3 separate regions of the Homo sapiens genome follow, and regions 1 and 2 are each linked to region 3. The links come from fine-mapping of genetic effects on gene expression. A gene starts in region 3. Each other region holds a variant in brackets. All regions are shown on one strand. Distances are from middle to middle. Region 1 has its middle 200 kb from the start of KCNE4. Region 2 has its middle 23 kb from the start of ACSL3. Region 3 holds the start of ACSL3 (acyl-CoA synthetase long chain family member 3).

What was found. PIP is the estimated chance that this variant, and not a neighbour inherited with it, causes the effect.
Region 1: its variant is fine-mapped to the expression of ACSL3 in monocytes (Fairfax 2014, PIP 0.95).
Region 2: its variant is fine-mapped to the expression of ACSL3 in whole blood (TOPMed, PIP above 0.99).

Annotation. Positions count from the first base shown.
Region 1 is chr2:223,250,710-223,254,954 of GRCh38, reverse strand. No RefSeq gene overlaps it. Among named protein-coding and RNA genes, the nearest start is that of KCNE4, 200 kb to the right of the region's middle. The variant CTTTCTTTCTTTT/T (reference allele first, on the strand shown) is at 2,337.
Region 2 is chr2:222,835,603-222,839,847 of GRCh38, reverse strand. No RefSeq gene overlaps it. Among named protein-coding and RNA genes, the nearest start is that of ACSL3, 23 kb to the left of the region's middle. The variant G/A (reference allele first, on the strand shown) is at 2,443.
Region 3 is chr2:222,858,848-222,863,092 of GRCh38, reverse strand. It overlaps ACSL3 (acyl-CoA synthetase long chain family member 3), which reads right to left and starts at 2,057. Exons shown (of 17, transcript NM_004457.5): 1 at 1,835-2,057. RefSeq lists silencers at 1,562-1,931, 2,002-2,331 and an enhancer at 2,048-2,342.

The sequences.
Region 1 (4,245 bases), 390 kb before region 3:
AGCCAGACAAAAGACAAACATTGTATGATTCTGTTTATATGAGGCACCAAGAATAGTCAAATTTATAGAGGCAGAAAGTAGAATAACAGTTATCAGGGACTGTGGGAGGGAGAATGGAGAGTTACTGTTTAATTGGCACAGAGTTTCAGTTTGAGATGATAAAAAATTTCTGGAGATGGATAGTGGTGATAGTTACACAACAACTGAACTGTGTACTTAAAAATGGTTAGAATGGTGACTTTTATGTTATGTATATTTTACCAAACTAAAAAAGGATTAAAAAGTAAATTTTCAGATAAACGGAAACAGAAAGGATTTTCCATCAGCAGAGTTGCACTAAATGATAGATTAAACAGAGTTTTTTTAAGAAGGAAGAAATGGACCCCAGACCAAAACACAGAACTACAAGGACCGAAGAGCAATGGGGAAAAAAATGGAAAAAGATATGCTATACAGACCAAACTTCTAACCAAAGAAGAAAAGTAATTTCAAATTACAGTTATATGTAACAAATTAACTTCCTTAACCTGATAAGAATTATTTACAAATCAGCTACTCTAAGCATCATACTTAATGCTAAATATTGAGAGATTTTTTCTTTGAATTCAGAAATAAGGCAAATATAGTAAACAGTAATATGTTGTGTACTTAAAAATTGCTAAGAGAGAAGATCTTAAATGTTCACACCACAAAAGAAAAATGATAACAAGTTAAGGCAATGTATATATTAATCTTTATTGTTTTAATCGCTTCACAGCATATACATATGTCAATACATATAAATTTTATTTGTTAATTACAACTCAGTAAAACTGGAAAAAAGTAATGAAAATATTTTAAAATAAAAGATATTTAGTATTGTCACATATTTAGTATTATATATAGGATAATGTAAAAGTAAGAAATAAGATTATCACTATTAACAGAATATCTGGTTGTGATTATAAAAACATCCAAAAGGATCTACCACAAACTAGTATGCTAAATGTCATAAGGCATTTAGCAATATCATCAGACATGGGGTCAATACACAAGAACAACTACATTTCTGTATCTTAGAAAGAAACGAAAACCTAAAGTCAAGTATTATTCAGAATAGCATCACACACCACTGTGTTGATAAGGATGTAGAACAACTCAAATTTTCGTAAAATGCTGGTGTAAACTTCAATTAATAACCATGTTAGAAAACTTTGGTAATATCCATTCAATTAATGGATATTACTGTTTGATAATATCCATTCAATTAATGGATATTACTGTTTGATAATATCCATTCAATTAATAGCCATGTTAGAAAACTGTTTGGTATTATCTGCCAACCATGAACATGCACAGTTCTACTACTAGGTACATATCCAACAGAAATACATATACATGTTCACACAAAAAGACACAAACAATAATATTCTTAGCAACACTATTCACAATGGCCCCACACTGCTAAAAGTCTACGTGTTCAAACAATATATAATTGACTTCTTAAATGGTGGTATAATTATTCAATGAAATACTAAACAGAAATGAAAGAAAAACAAACTACAACTGTACACATTAACATGGATAACTCTACCAGCTATAATTTTGAGTGAAAGAAGTCAAACGCAGAAGTGGACACATTCTATGATCTCACTTATATAAAGACGAATTATTCTATAGTCTTAGAAGTCAGAAAAATGGTTATCTTTAACATTGAAGAACTGATTGGAAGGGACACGAATAAGGAATACAGGAGTATTGGAAATATTTTACTTAATTGATATGGGTGCTGGTTGGCTGAATAGATTTATTTAGTAAAAGTTCAAAGAGCTATAATATATACTTATTTGTGCACTTTGCTATATATTACAACTCAATTCAAATTTTGACTCTAAAAAGTAGAGAGCTAGATGCCAAGGGCTAGGTACACTGTGATTCTCTTTCTTCAAAGTCCACAAACAAACAAAATGAATCTATAGTGAAAGAAGTCAGAATGGTGTTGATTTTATGGGGATCATTAACTGGAAGATGGAAGAAAGGGGCTTCGGGTGCTGGAAATAATTTAAGTTGACCTTGGTAGTTACATGAGTGTATACATTTGTAAAAAGTCATTGCATTGTAAAGTCAAGATTGTGCACTTTACTGTTTCAACTTGCAATTCAATACAAGAAGTTGAGTTACGGTGGGGAATAAACCTAGCCAATCCATGTATCTTACTAAAGGCATGGCTTCCTGCCTGGCACATTCCTCAGGCTCAAGAGATAAGCTTCTGGTTTCTTTTTTCTTTTTCTTTCTTTCTTTCTTTCTTTCTTTCTTTCTTTCTTTCTTTCTTTCTTTCTTTCTTTCTTTCTTTCTTT[CTTTCTTTCTTTT/T]TCACTGACTAGGACTCAAAGATGACGAGGGAAAAAGAGAAATTGGTTCTTTTTACAGGTAAAAAGTCAGAGAAATTTTGTTAACTACCAGTCAATAAATACAGTGACTAAATAAACATGGAAACTATACTAAAATTTATAGAGTAATACTAAAATGATAAAAAGCCCTCAATGAGTTTACAATCTAGTTGGAGAAACACAACACACTGAAATATATAAAACATTTACAAAACAACGTAAGAGTAACTAACTGAATACAGTGCCATGAAACTAGCTTTCTCTGAGGTTCACCCAACTCTAACTGGGATGTTCAGTCATAGGAGAGCTTACATGTCCCATACTTCTCCCAATTTCATTTCTACTAGTAATTTTACCTTTTCTGAGAAACAGAAAGGTACCTGTAATCAACATGTTAAAATCCCAGTGCATTTTTATTTTTAAGAATGATTTCTCAATCACATGATTGAAAATGCCTTCTCTTTCAGAGTAAAAAAAAAAAATCTATAAAGACTGAGTTATAACTATCATTAAACCCTTAAAGCAAAGCTAAATCATTAAGCTAGGAAGAAGCTGGGTTTTATTGCCCATAAAAAGCTAAGGAAAGGAGAGAAGGAGCCAAGTAACCGAGTCACTTCTCTTAAAATGAACGAGCATTTAGGAGAAGTGGAAACGTGGGATAATAAGAGTGAGACAGGACCAAGAGTGTTGCGTGGATAAAGCTCCTTATGCGTAGTGCACCCACATACCCTGGCTGCGCGCCACAGCCCTGGTTACCTCCTGAATTCCCAAAGTCTTCTCACTTTAAGCATTTGTCCCTGATGTTTTTGGCTGTATTGCAATAAGCTAAATGAGTTTGGTAGAACTCCACTTTGAACTTGCAACTTCCAGCTGGGTGCGGTGGCTCACCCTGGCATCCTAGCACTTTGAGAGACTGAGGCGGGCTGATCGCTTGAGGTCAGGAGTTTGAGACCAGCCTGGCCAACATGGTGAAACCCCTTAACTAAAAATACAAAAATTAGCCGGGCATGGTGGCACACGCCTGTAATTCCAACTACTCGAGGGGCTGAGGTGGGAGAATCGCTTGAACCCAGGAGGCGGAGGTTGCAGTGAGCCAAGATTGCGCCATTGCACTCCAGCCTGGGTGACAGAGCGAGACTCTTTCTCAAAAAAAAAAAAAAAAAAGAAAGAAAGAAAGAAAAAGAACTTGTAACTTCTACCAGGGTCTTGTCTAGCAGCATACATGAGAGATGTGTGCAGTAAAAAAAGATGCTCACTTGAACACGTGGTGAAACCTAAAAGACAACCAAAGATAAACCCATCTGTCCTTTCCCTACCCCACCCAGAAACTAACACTTCTCACTCAGTGGTGATCGCTGGTGCAATAAGGCTGGCTCAGACAATATAAACTGGAGAAGGGTGGTGGTGGGAGAAGTATTGCATGTTGCTGTCTCTGCCAGCTATTGGGTGAGCCAGCCTGTGGAATGCTGGTAACTCCTAGGCTGTCAGTTGGTGGGATCAGGGGACAACATGGGAAATTATAGCTTAACTGAACACCAAAGTGTGGGAAATAGAGGCTGAGCAGTCCTGCCATAGAATGTCTAGAATAGTCTGATTGCTCTTCTAGGGTAGTTTGCATTATGGTATAATCTAACAACGATTTTATTGTTTGGTTTTCTTTTTTATTTGATATTGAATCCTTTAAACAGTAATGAGCTCAAAAAGGTGCATATTTAATGAATCAACCTGAATCACCATTTCTTAAGAAAGTTCATGATGAACATTTAACTTGCTCAAAATGTTTTTCAATACTGAACATCCTCTTTTGGATCTATAGGAATAACATGGACCTCATAACAACTACGAGACTCAAATCTCTAAAAATATGTCAACATCTACT
Region 2 (4,245 bases), 23 kb after region 3:
TGATCACAGAACATCTGTATTCACATTTTTTCTATAGATGTGTTGGCTATTCTGATTTCTATATTAATAAACACTCTTTAGGTTGCAAGCAACAGAGATCCAAATTGAATTTCCGTATTCAAAAAGGGGAATTTGTCCGGGAGCGGTGGCTCATCCCTGTAATCCCAACACGTTAGGAGGCCAAGGTGGGTGGATCACCTGAGGTCAGGAGTTCGAGAGCAGCCTGGCCAACATGGCAAACCCTGTCTCTACTAAAAATACAAAAAATTAGCTGTGCGTGATGGTGGGCACCTGTAATCCCAGCTACTTGGGAGGCTGAGCGAGGAGAATTGCTTGAACCTGGGAGACAGAGGTTGCAGTGAGCTGAGAGCGCACCATTGCACTCCAGCCTGAGTGACAGAGCAAGACTCTGCTTCAAAAAAAAAAAGGGGGGGTGGAGGGGTTTATTTTATCATGTAACTAGAAAATCAAAACAAACAGGCTTGGTGTTATGCAAAGTTGGATTAGATACTCAAAACATTACCAGCAGCAATGTATTTTCCTGCCTCTCAGGACCTCTTTCTTTTACATAGGCCTCATTCTCAACTCTTCTTCCAGATGTAGGCAAAAATGGTAACTAGTCACCGCAGGCTTATAATTCCACCTTATATTTCCACCAAAAACCCCACTGGAAAAAGAAACTCTTTCTAGATAGCTCCAGAGAATGTCTTGGTGTTTAGTATCATTGGTCTGGCTTGTGTTATGTGCCTATCACTGAACCAACTGCTGAGGCAAAGGGAATGGAATGTTATGATTTGACAGACCTAGGACCTGTACTTATCAATGGAGTGAAAGCCTGGAATCAGCCCCACCTGAACCACAGGGATTGGGTTGGTATCTCTAAGACATACTAAGCTACCATTACTAAAAGAAAGGCGAAGTATCACTGGGAGGCAAAAGCAAGGGATGTCCACCAGCTTCCGGGATGAGTGGTCGCACTGAATAATCCAGGCTCATTGTCATTAATGCCCTTTTGATGTCTCCAATGTCTGTCTAACAAGCTCTGACTTTCAGTCTCAATCTATTTGTCTTTTCTCTTCAACCCTGGCATCTTAAGGAGCCCTTAGGACATTACTGTTGTTGCTGGGAGGGGTTGTCTATCAACTCCTTGTGATTTGGACTGAGATGGAATTATTTTATTTTATTTTGTTTTGTTTTATTTTGAGATGGAGTTTCGCTCTTGTTGCCCAGGTTGGAGTGCAATGGCACGATCTTGGCTCACCACAACCTCCGCCTCCCGGGTTCAAGCAATTCTCCTGCCTCAGCCTCTCAAGTAGCTGGGATTACAGGCATGCGCCACCAAGCCTGGCTAATTTTTTGTATTTTTAGTAGAGAGGGGGTTTCTCCATATTGGCCAGGCTGGTCTCGAACTCCCGACCTCAGGTGATCCACACACCTCAGCCTCCCAAAGTGCTAGGATTACAGGCATGAGCCACCGCGCCCGGCCGAGATGGAATAATTTTCTAAGCAGGAAGCATTGATTCAACATGTCATTCATTCTCTCCTATGTATCAGACATGTGCTTGATGCAGTTCTCATCTATAATAATTAGCCTAATGAAGGCACCATACAAGAAAATCCATGTGATAAGGAGTAGAGTTCTGCACAGGCTAATAATTGGGAGAGTTACAAAGAACAAGCTTCCAGATCAGCTCAGTTGTCAGAACATACCTCTAAGAAATGATGTTTGAGCTAAGTCCCTGAGGATGCATAAAAGTTGGGCAGAGAGGTAGAGGACAAGGGAGTGGGTAGACATTCCAAGTAGAGAGAACAATTTGTGTAGAAGCACATAGGCAAGATGGGCAATGGCATATTTTTAGAATTACGAGTCGGCCAGGATGACTACAGCTCAAGTTGTGTGTAGGAAAGTGGCCCGAGAACATGTGATGAAGAACATGAATAAACTTGTCAGCCATGTCAAGCCTGGATGTTTGAAATTTATCTTGTGAAATTTACCTTGAGCATTAGTCACTTTTAGGTAGAAGAAAAGTATGACCAAATGTAATCTCGTTTGTTTGTTTAAGCATTCCTTAGAGAAAAAAAATTGCAGAAGACTAAGACTGGAGATAGGGAGAGAAACACAGTCTCCTGTAGTGGTCTGGGTAAGTTTTGATAAAAAGGAATTAACTAAAGCACAGTGAGGGTGGAGAAGAGGGACTGAATTAGCAACGTACAGGAGATACTATTGACAGGACAGGAAAAGGAAGTAGAGTGCAGGAAAAGAAAAGAGAAGAGAAAAGCGGGGATTCTGGGAGCGGTTCCCAGGTTTCTGGCTTGGGTGACTGGCTGGTTGGTGTTTTTATTCAAACAGAAACTCAGGTTTTGGAAAAAGATGATGACTACGGTTGGGTGCATCCGGTTGGAAATTTGTGATGGATAGATGAATCTAAATTCAGTGGAGCC[G/A]CCAGGCTAGAGATGTAGATGTCCTCAAGCCAATGTAGCTGAAGCCATGTTTGCGGATGGGATCAGTCAAGGGAGAACGTACAATATGAAGAGAAGTTGGAAGGACAGAACCCTGGGCATCACCAACATTTAAAAATCCAGTGAATAAAGAGAAGTCAGAAAGGAGACAAAAACGAAGGAACCGGACATGGAAGAGTGCAAAGAGGATGTCCACCTCACCAGGCAGGACAGATTCTCTTCTTCTTTCTTTATTTTATTTTATATTTATTTGTTTATTTATTTTGAGATGGAATCTCACTCTGTTGCCCAGGCTGGAGTGCAATGGCACATTCTCGGCTCACTGCAGCCTCCATCTCCTGGATTCAAGTGATTCTCCTGCCTCAGCCTCCCAAGTAGCAGGGATTACAGGTGCATGCCACCACGCCCAGCTAATTTTTGTATTTTTAGCAGAGACAGTTTCACAGTGTTGGCCAGGCTGGTCTCGAATTCCTGACCTCAAATGATCCACCCACCTAGGCCACCCAAAGTGCTGGGATTACAGGCATGAGCCATTGCATCCAGCCTTCTTGAAAAAAAAATTATAATTATTATTTTTCTAGAAGAGAGTCTTACTCTGTTGCCCAGGCTAAGTACAAAGGCACAATTATAGCTTACTGCAGCCTCAATCTCCAGGACTCAAGCAATCCTCCTGACTCAGCCTCATGAGCCACTGTGCCTGGCTAATTTTTTTTTAAAACAGTGTCGTGCTCTGTTGCTCAAGCTGGAGCACAATGGCTCTATCATGGCTCACTGAAGCCCCGACATTTTGGGCTCATGATCCTCCTACCTTAGACTTAGTAGCTGGGACCACAGGCATGCGCCACCATGCCCACGTTTTATTTTTTTTATTGTTATTTTTTTTTATGTTACGTTGCCCACCTGGTCTTGAACTACTGAGCTCAAGCAGTCCTCCCACCATGACCTCCCAAAGTGCTAGGATTACAGGCATAAGCCACTGTACCTGGCTAATTTTTTATCTTTTATTTTTTGTAGAGGAAGGGTCTCACTGTTTCCCAGGCCAGTCTTGAACTCCTGAGCTCAAGCAATTCTTCTGCTTTGGCCTTCCAAAATGTGGGGATTATAGACATGAGCTACTGTACCTGGCCAGATTCACTTCTTTACAGTCACTTGCAATTCTCTTGAAAAACTGCCTCCAGTCAGGCAAGGTAACTCACACCTGTAACTCCAGCACTTTGGGAAGCTGAGGTGGGCAGATCGCTTGAGCCCAGTTCAGGGCCACTCTGGCCAACATGGTGAAATGCCGGCTCTACTAAAAATACAAAAATTAACTGGGTGTGGTGACATGTGTCTGTAATCCAAGCTACTCGGTAGGCTGAGGCAGAAGAATCACTTGAACCTGGGAGGCAGAGGTTGCAGTGAGGCAAGATCGTGCCACTGCACTCCCAGCCTGGGCAACAAAGTCAGACCCTTTTTTTTTCTGTCTCAAAAAAAAAAAAAAGAAAAGCTACCTCCTTTCTCTGCTCCAGCTTCTCTCTACTAAAGCTGCAGACAGGGAATGGCAATGAGAAAAGGCGTTGTAAAAGTATGCAGAGACTGCAGCCCCCAACGGAATAGCTAACCTTGATACCTTTGCATAACTTTATTATTTTCAGCTCTCCTATGTTGTCAGCAGGTGATTTTTGCTCGTGCTGGATCCTTGGCTGTCTTCCAGATAACTGAGGTCATAAAATACATGAGGCATTACAGTGGCACTTTCAAGGCAAACCTTATATTTATAAAGAATCACCTGGACTCCTTGAGAAA
Region 3 (4,245 bases):
ACAAAAATTAAATGGCTCTAGGTGAGTCAATTAATCAAATGAGGAATGAAACAGTCACTTAACTGGAACCAAACAGCAGGGAAACACAAAAGCAAATGAAACAGACCTCGAGGCTTTAAGATCTGATTCTCACCCCAAACCAGACAGAGGATGATTTTCCCCTTATAATTTGTGCGTTCTTCATTTCTCCCATTCTTCCTTTCTTCCTTCAAGGAGAACATTTTAGACCCTCAGAATATTTAAGCTTTAAGTCACTGAGTCTAAAGCCTTACAAATTCAGTAACTGAGATCCAAAGATACGAGGTGACTTGTCACCTTGACCCTTAGGTCCAATGGACCACTCTGCCCCACACCCAATGTCATCCTACAAAACCAATATTTTTATACAAAAGAGAAACCAGGAAAAGTCTAGAGAGAAAACGCATGCGACAATTAGAAGGCTTACTCATCCCCAAGTGTGAGGAACTGCCCAGAAAAATGCCAGAAAACAAAATCAAGTCTGTGCAAAAGATTCCCATGTCACACCACCTGTCCCCTATAATACCCTTCTAATACACTTTCAGGAGCAACTCATCAGCACCCTTAACTCTCAGAACTAATTTGGGGAAACAAAATAGGTTGATAAACATGAAAGAAGGTATCATCAAACTACAACTCTCCTGGCCACCCAGACTAAAATCCACTGTGGAAACTATTCAGCCAGCCACCAAGGAGAGGCAGCAAAATATAGTGCTTAGATTTCAGAGCTCTGGATTTACACAGGCCTGTCTGAATCCCAGCTTCTTACTAGCTGAGATCTGAGGCAAGCTAAGTCGTCCAATCTGCAGTTTCTCCCGCTGTAAAATGGGAATAACCCCCACCCCAGAGGACTGTTAACAGTGTGAAGACACTGTACATAAAGCTCTCCAAACAGTGCGTGGCATGTAATAAAAGCTCAATAAATGTCAGCTATTTGTCATTCTTTTCAGCTATAATTTCGTTCACAAAGCCTACTGCCTTTCTAGCTTCCATATAATTTTAAAGACATTCCTCCAGCCTTTTCATTTTCGAGGGATCTTTTATACAGCAGCTTAGAGCACACTTTCTAGTATCAGACTTCCTGCGAAAACCATTTGAAAACCTGTGCCTCGGGCTCCTCATCTGTGAAACGAGCCTGATAACACCTACCCCACAGGACTGCTGGTAGTAAGCAGTCCCCGAGTTACCCAACCTATCAACAGTATATGATTAAAACGCACTTGGGGAAAAGCAAAGCTGCAACTCTCAAACCCCAAACGACAGTCTTAATCCCAGTCCCACCACCACGATAGTGCCCAGAACCAATCACCAAGGTCGACCCACCTCACGCACCTAGTTTCTTCTCACCCCACGCAGCAACAGCCCCTCCCGCCCCGCCAAACAAGGGTTTTCCGAAATCGCAGGGCTGAGTCTCCTTCCACGGACACCGCACTGCTGGGGCCGCGGCAGAGCCCTCTTAATTCAAGGGGGTGGCCTCCCCACCCCGCCCCACAGCGCCGGGAGGCACGCAGTGCATCCTCCCTGCCTGGTCAGCGCCGCCCCACGCCGTTCGCGCTGCAGCTCCCGGCTCGCGTGGGCTCAGGGCCGAGGCCCCACGTCAGCCGCTTCCCGGACCCCAGCGGGCCGCCTCCCACCCTGCTCGCCGCTGCTCCTGGTGCCGCGGGCCGCCCGCGCGCACACCCAGCGGTCAGGTGCGGCGCCGACGACAGGGTCCCAGGCCCCGAGGCTGGGGAGCCCCTCGGGCCCAGCCGAACCGCACGCGGAGGCCGCGCCGCCAACCGGCTCCCGCCGCTCCCACAACCGGCGCCGCACTCACCGCTACGCCGGAGTCCGGGTTCCTCCGGCCTCGGGCCCGCGCAGGCCTGGCTGAGCCCCAGAGCGTTCACGCCCCGCGCCGCCGCCCGGGGATCCTGGCGCAGCTGTCGGGGCCGCAATGCGAGGGGACGAACGTATGCGACCCCGTCCAACGCCTCCTCGTCCCGGCCCCGGCCGCGTAGACAACTGCAGTGTCGCAGCCCGGCGCAGCCACAGCAGCGTCTGTTGAGCGGAACCGCCTGGGACGCTCACCCCCGGCCGGCACTCGTTGCCTATGCAGAGAGGCTGCCACCCATTGGCCCGCGAGCGGTGGCGCGTGCGGGGCTGGGCCTATCGAATTCGGGCCGGGGAGCGCGGCGCTGGCGGCCCGGGGCGGGGCGAGGTTACTACGGGTCATTCCGCGGAGCCGCCGCGGACCGGACCTGGCTGCAGTCTGCGCGGGGCGGGGGCGGGAACGGGGTCGACCAGGAGGGACGGACCGCGGGTGGGGGAGGGGAGCGGGGATCTGCGGCAGCGACGTGGGAGGAGCGGCTAGCCCAATAGGGTCTGCAGGAGCTCCGTCCCTCCAGGAAAAAACACCCCTCCACCAAAAAAAAAAAAAAAAAAATTACAGTCGCACAATTATTGCTGTAATGTATAAATTTCAATATAAATTATGAAATAGTATGCATATTCTTTTTCGTTTTTAACTGGATTAGTTATCCCGTTCTTGCAGAAATTGCTGTCAAATCCTGCCAAATAAAATGGCTTTTGGAACTGCCTGGGGCAAGAAGAGCCTCAAAAACTCAAAGCTTATCCATTATCATTTCTCTTGTTTTGGCCTCACTTGACCTAGCATATAACCCGTTTTCCTCTAAATGCACTCACCATGCAAATTTGCTATTTCTTTTCAAAAAATAAAGTTTACTCCAAATTATTGTTTTTGAACGTTCTTAGGAATCCACAGTGGTTCTGTATTTTAAGGAGTTTGCCATTGTTTCTCGTTTTAGACACTAAACAAGGATAAGAAAGAAAGCATCCAGTGCAGGTAGTAGAACTACATGTACTGTAAGAGAGAAGATTTTCACTCACCCAGTACTAGTAGGATTGGTCTCTTTTTTTAACCCAACATATTGTTTAGTTTGCCTGTGAACTTTTCCTTAAGTAGGTGAAAGGTTGCCTTCCTGAGCCAGCCTCAGGCTAAAGCAGGCCTCATTTCCCAAGAGAATCAAAATCAGGAAGCCGCCAGAACTTGAACTAGGTGGAGCGATGATGCACCAAGCAAAGAGAGCTCACTCACCGTGGGCCAAGGGCCAATCGAGAACCTAAAGGGATGGATACCTGACTCAGGCAAACTGTTCTCCCACTTCAAAATATGGCAGTTCAGTTGCTCATTAATCTGTTGAAATCTTATCAAAGGATACATCCTGAAGATAAATGGAATGCAGAATTTCTTATCTGAAAAGACATTCGCAGCTCTGCAGAGAGAAGCAGGCTTTAGAAGTAGTACTTCTAGAACCATGAAATCCTCTGGAAAATACTGGTTTTTTTCCGAGAGAAGAAAACTAATATTGCACCTTTTTATCTATCCATAAGCCTAAAACAGACTAGAAGAATTCCAACAATATCTTTCTTCATTATCTTTATATTATGGAATATATATTATGGATATGGACCTATATTTAAAAGAAAATGGTCCTGGGAATTAAAATTCTAAATTCTCATCTTGTTTGCTGTTTAACAAGCTAAGTAGAAATACATAGAGATACTTCAGAGACATTGTGGGTTTGGTTCCAGACCACTGACACTTAAAGGGAATATCAAAATTAAGTGAGTCACATGAATTGTTTGGTTTCCCAGTAAATATAAAAGTTATGTTCGCCGGGAGCGGTGGCTCACGCCTGTAATCCCAGCACTTTAGGAAGCCAAGGCAGGCGGATCACCTGAGGTCAGGAGTTCGAGACCAGCCTGACCAATATGATGAAACCCTGTCTCTACTAAAAATACAAAAATTAGCCAGGCGTGGTGGCATGCGCCTGTAATCCCAACTACTCGGGAGGCTGAGACAGGAGATCGCTTGAACCTGGGAGGCGAAGGTTGCAGTGAGCCGAGATCGTGCCATTGCACTCCAGCCTGGGCAACAAGAGTGAACTGCATCTCAAAAAAAAAAAAAAAGTTATGTTCATACTATAAAGCGTGCAATAGCATTATATTTAACAAAACAATGTACATATCTTAATTTAAAAATACTTTATTGCAAAAAAAATGCTGGCAATCACCTGAGTCTTCAGCAAGTTGTAATCTTTTTTGCTGGAGGAGGGTCTCACCTCAGGGTTGATGGCTGCTAACTGATCAAGGTGATGGTTGCTGAAGGTGGGGATGGCTGTAACAATTCCTTAAAATAGACAACAATGAAGTTTGCACCATAGGTTG